Linked DNA regions of Homo sapiens: region 2 is linked to region 1. A link means that fine-mapping ties the variant in region 1 to the expression of a gene that starts in the linked region. Tissue or cell type: whole blood. Region 1 holds a variant in brackets; the other region holds the start of a gene. All regions are shown on one strand. Distances are from middle to middle.

The links.
Region 2: KCTD7 starts here. The variant in region 1 is fine-mapped to the expression of KCTD7 in whole blood (TOPMed, PIP above 0.99).

Annotation. Positions count from the first base shown.
Region 1 is chr7:66,572,210-66,575,119 of GRCh38, forward strand. It overlaps the pseudogene RABGEF1P1. Among named protein-coding and RNA genes, the nearest start is that of KCTD7, 55 kb to the right of the region's middle. The variant C/G (reference allele first, on the strand shown) is at 1,167.
Region 2 is chr7:66,627,752-66,630,661 of GRCh38, forward strand. It overlaps KCTD7 (potassium channel tetramerization domain containing 7), which reads left to right and starts at 1,130. Exons shown (of 4, transcript NM_153033.5): 1 at 1,130-1,457. The coding sequence starts at 1,314. RefSeq lists a silencer at 921-1,490.

The DNA.
Region 1 (2,910 bases):
TTTTTTATTTTTTGTAGAAACGGGGTTTCACCATGTTGCCCTGGCTGGTCTCAAACTCCGGAGCTCAGGTGATCCACCCGTCGTGGCCTCCCAAAGTGCTGAGATTATAGGTGTAAGCCACCACACCTGGTATCCATGTCTTAAAGAGAAGTATGTTTTTGGTTATATGCAATATTTCCTTTTATTTCCTTACAATAAACCAAAAGAAAACAGCAAAAGTCACAAAACCTAGAGGACTGGCAAGGATCTTAAGGGATAAAAACTGTCTTATTATTCATTCCCCTGCCTCCAGGGGAGAAGATCTCATTACAATTACCCCAGGGTAAGAACTGGGGAGCAAGTGAGGGGGCTCCCAGAGAACAGGTTTTCTGACAGCATCAGTGTTGGTTCCCAGTCTCCCTCATTATTTCACATTCACTGCATAACTCAACATAAATTTTCAAAGACCGAGTACCAACATAAATTTTCAGAGACCAAGGCCTAACAACAGAGATTCTTTCTTGCTTCATATTGGGCCACTTCAACTGGGTTGTCTGCTCAATGGTAGAACAACTGTGACTTAAGTGACAATCCTCTTGATGGTTATATGGCATTTTAAGAAGCCGAGTGAATATGATCACCTACATACAAATCCATGCACTGGAAAATAGCTACTATGGCTCACTTTCATCCCTCCAGGAGCCCAATGTGGGCCTTTTCCTATATGTTCTCAATACAATTCCTCATGACACAAGCTGTCTCTCAAATAAGCTCTCAGGCAGAAAATCTCTCAGATGACCTTCAAGGCTAGAAATTGCCATTTCTGACAAGCTATGAACAATGAGGGTATGATACTACAGAACAAACCAGGATCCACAAATAAAAGGCGCAAAAACCAAATCATCCAAAGAGATAGTCATTTGGATGGGGATGAATTTCATAAACAAAACTACCTATTTCAATTCTCTTTATTCCTCCTATAAAGTAAACAAATTTCTCTAAAACACAATATCTTTCAACCAAAGAGAGTATTGGTTTCATATACTGTCTGACCCTCAAACCCAATTTCAGTGTCAAATCTGAGCTGATGTTCTCAAAAAGTTGACAGAAATTACAAAGCTGAGCCTATGAGCATTGGGGATCTCCTCTGTGTCTCACTCAGGCAGAGAAGAAAAAAAAGAGTATCA[C/G]AACATTACCCTTCTTTGATCCGACCCTGGAAGACGTACTGAAGATTTCTTCACTGTGGTAACCTTGCGGGTCTTCTTGTTGGTTTTCTTTCCTTCAAACTTGGAGAATGTGAGGGATTGGGCCCCTTGGCTGCTCTGACTGCTGGCAAAGGCCTCTTCTTCCTCCCGCTGGAGTCTGCAATTCAAGAGAGGATTAGAATGATCTAGATATTCTCCAAGATTTCTCTATACCTGAAGGTTATTACTCCATTAATTCAGGAGGATCTAAAGATTTTAGACCTAGAGACTAAATATGCCAAATCAGTCTGAGGTCTCACATAGCTACAGGATGGACGGCTCTTCATGCACTACAGATTTCAAATGGGATCCTCTCATGCTCATTCAGCAACTGCTCTAGGTTACATGAAAGAAATCAAGTCTAGTCCTTTTCCCCAACAAGCTCAGTGAAATAAATAAAGTCTAGTCCTTTTCCCTAACAAGCTCAAGGCTGGAACAGACGAAAAGGTAAGTAAACAACTGCTACAGAATGGGACAGCTGCTACATCAGAGAGTAAAAGTTGAGTGCTGTGAGAACACAGGAAAGAACAACGCAATCTGCTGGGGGGAGCTGATAAGGCTTTACAACGGTGATGTTTGGGTGGGGTCTTAAAGGATAAATAGGATCCTTTTTTTTGTTGTTTTTTATTGAGACAGAGTGTCACTCCATCACCCAGGCTGGGGTGCAATAGTACGATTTCAGCTCACTACAACCTCTGCCTCCCGAGTTCAAGCAATTTTCATCCCTCAGCCTTCCAAGTTATTGAGACTATAGGTGCACACCACCACGTCTGAGTAATAAGGCTGACTAGGATTCTAAGTGAAAGGACATTCCAGGAAGAAGGAACTACAAATGTGCAAGCCTGTGGTTTGCTTCACAACAAGCTGAATGTAGCCAGAGCACTGGGCGTGTGATGAACTGTGATGCTGGATACACAGGAAGGCTCCAGAGGGTAGGGAATCTTGATTGCTGAGCCCACTATTCTGGATTTCATCATGTGGTGGGGAAGCAAGAAAGACTGTAAATCCAAGAAGTTATCGTTGTCAGATCGTTGTATGTACTTTAGAAAGATCATGCAGGTAGCTGTGTGAACAACTTGAAGGGTAGAGAAACTAGAGACAGGAACAAGAAGTAAGAGTATATTATAAAGGTTTAAGTAAAAGAAAATAAGCACCTGGAAAATAGGAGTACAAAAGGTAAAATTCAAGACTTTTCTGAGTTGGAAGAAACAGAACTTGGTCAAGTTGTAGGCAGCATAGGAGATGAAAGAGAAATCAAGAATGAAACCAAGGTTTTTTAGCTAACTTGGTAAATAGTGATGCCATTAATTGACTCAGGAGAAGGGTTAGGAGGAAAATGTTCAGAATGCGGAGAATAATAAATAAAAGCAATAAATTTGGGTTTGGATTAGCTGCATGTGAACCATCTGTAATAATTCCCAAACACAGGCGGGGTACAGTAGCTCACGCCTGTAATCCCAGCACACTGGGAGGCCAAGGCAGCCGGATCACTTGAGCTCAGGAATTTGAGACCAGCCTGGGAAACATGGTGAAACCCTGTCTCTACATAAAATACAAAAATTAGCTGGGCGTGGTAGCATGCTCATGTAGTCCTAGCTACTTGGGAGGCTGAAGCAGAGGGATCACTTGAGCCCAGGAAGCAGAGGTTGCAGTGAGTCCAGACTGTACCATGTACCACTGCACTCCA
Region 2 (2,910 bases), 56 kb after region 1:
GATCTCGCCTCACTGCAATCTCCATCTCCTGGGTTCAAGCGATTCTCCTGCCTCAGCCTCCCTAGTAGCTGGGATTGCAGGTGTGCCACCATGCCTGGCTAATTTTGTATTTTTAGTAGAGATGAGGTTTCACCATGTTGGCCAGGCTGGTCTCAACTTCCTGACCTCAGGTGATCCACCCGCATCGCTTACCAAAGAGCCAGGATTACAGGCGTGAGCCACTGCGCCCGGCCAAAATTTTAAAAAATCAGCTGAGTGTGGTGGTGCGCGTCTGTGGTCCCAGCTACTCGGGAGGCTGGGGCGGGAGGATTGCTTGAGCCCAGGGGTTGCAATGAGCTATGATTGCGCCACTGCACTTCAGCCTGGGTAACAGAGTGAGACTTTGTCTTTTAAAGAAAGGAGAAAATGGCTTGAACGGGCTAAGAACCTTGACCCCCAGGAGACTCCCTGCGCTGATAGAGCCTCTAGGGCTGGACTCCGCCTCCCAGGGAGCCGGGAGCATCTTGGGGAAGGGCCTGTCTCCATCTGTGTGTCCCGGTGGAAAAACGGTCACGGTGGGGAGTCACTGTCATTATTCATTGAACTCAAGCGCTCCTATTTTGGGTTTTCTCGTTCGGATTTCTGCGCGAGCGAGTGAGGAAGAACTGGACACCCGGGCGGTGCCCTGCGGCTCGGGGCGGGGCCAGCCGCGGTGGCGTGTCCGCAGCCACCTCAGCCCTCCTCCCGCCACATCCTCCAGGAAAGGCTGCTCAGGCCTTCCATTGAGGAGACAAGGACCCGCTGCTCTGGGGCCAGACACACGAGTAAGTCGTGACCCCCTGTGTGAAGGGATAAGGCGTCTACCCTGACGCGGGTGAGAACCCTCTTCACGGCAGACTCCGACGCCCAGTTATGAGAGCGTAGCGGCGCACCACCGCCGGGTCTCTCGGAGAGGGCGCGCCCGCTGGCCAGAGGACCAATCAGTGCACGGCAGGCTCGCAGGCCGCCCCCCCCCCCCCCCCCCAACCCAGGGACCACTCAGGCGCCGGCCGCTGGCGCTGCCTGCTCTTCGACTGGGCGAGCTTCCTGCCAATCAGGGCGGAACCAGCGCGGCGTCGGCCAGTAGCGGGAGGCGGTCGGGTCAGGCCCCAGCTGGGCGCGAGCGGGTCGGCGTTGAGGGAGCCACCGCCCTCCCGCCTGCGCACTGCCTCTCGCCCCCCTCCGGCCAGCCCGCAGCCGGCCGCGTCATGCCAGGCGCTGCTCGGCGGTAGGGAGTGCCCGGGGCCGCCGCCTCCGCCCGCCCGAAGCCGCGCCCACTGCCCAGAGCCAGAGGGATGGTGGTAGTCACGGGGCGGGAGCCAGACAGCCGTCGTCAGGACGGTGCCATGTCCAGCTCTGACGCCGAAGACGACTTTCTGGAGCCGGCCACGCCGACGGCCACGCAGGCGGGGCACGCGCTGCCCCTGCTGCCACAGGAGGTACCCGGGCGGGCGGCGGGCCGCGGGGCGTGGGGAGGGGCGCGGGGGAGAAGCGGGCGCGGGGCATAGCGGTCCTCGGCGGGTGGGCGGGGCCGGGGTTGGGGGCGGGGCCCGCGGACTTGCGCCCCTCCCCCGCCCACCTGCAACTCCCCCGCCCACCTGCACCCCTACCCACCCACCTTCAACCCCTGTCAATTACACCCACTAGGTGTGCTTCCCCACCCCCTACACCCTCCGCCCAGTAGTCACTGGGGTGATTTACTCCCATCGCCATGTCCCACTTTTACCGAAGACAGGAGGGAGGGTGGGCCGTGGGAGGGGGACCCTGGAGCCCCGAGAGCTGATGGTGTGTCTGACCAGGCACCGTAGCTCGAGCCTGTAATCCCAACACATTGGGAGGGAGGATCGCTTGAGGGCAGGAGTTGGAGGCCAGCCTGGGCAACATAGCGAGGCCCCGTCCCTACTACGACTGGAAAAACAAAGGCATTTTGGGTTGGATGAATAAAAAAAAGAAAAGAAAAAGATGTCTTCTAGAGAATCCAACAGGATGCTGTAGTGGTTGCCCACACCTAGTCTCCAGCTACCTAAGGAACAAGGCAAGGAGCTGTCTGCACATAAGGGGCAGGCCAGTTCATAGATGTAGGCACGGTCACCTGGCATCCCATGGCTTTCACTCACAGGCTGCTGTGCTCTGGTGCACAGGGGCTTCCACGGGTCTTACTTAATGTGTGTGATACTATCATGTCAACACCTGAAATGACACTCAAGAGACGGGAGAAGATACCAGGCATGGTGGCTCACATCTGTAATCTCAGCAGTTTGGGATGCTGAGGTGGGAGGATTGCTTGATCCCAGCAGTTAGAGACTAGTCAGGGCAACAGTGAGACCCTGCCTCTACAAAAATGAAAATTAGCCAGGCTTGGTGGTGTGTGCCTGTAGTCCCAGGTGCTCAGGAAGGTGAGTTGGGAGGATTGCTTGAGCCCTGGAGGTTGAGGCTGCAGTGAGCTGTAATTGTGCCACTGTACTCCAGCCTGGGTGTGATAGAGTAAGACCGTACCTACAAACAAACAAAAACAAAAAAAGCAAGAGAAGGGAAACGATGCCAGGTGTGGTGGCTTACACTTGTAATCCCAGCACTTTGGGAGGTCAAGGCAGGAGGATGGTTTGAGGCCAGGAGTCTGGGACCAGCTTGGGCAACACAGACTCCATCTCTACAAATAAAAAATAAAGAGGAGGGAAGGTGAAGCATTACTGGACACCGAAGATGGCTTCTAGGAGGCAGGGACTAAGGTAGTGCCAGATCCAGGAGCATGTGGTATGCGGAGTCCCAGGACAATGGAGGCCCTCAACAATTGAGGCCCTCAACAGGCTGGGCTAGGTGATGCTCTTGGGAAGCAGATAGTGTTGTGCTGGGATTGCAAGCCCCATACACACAATGCCATGGGAAAATGAG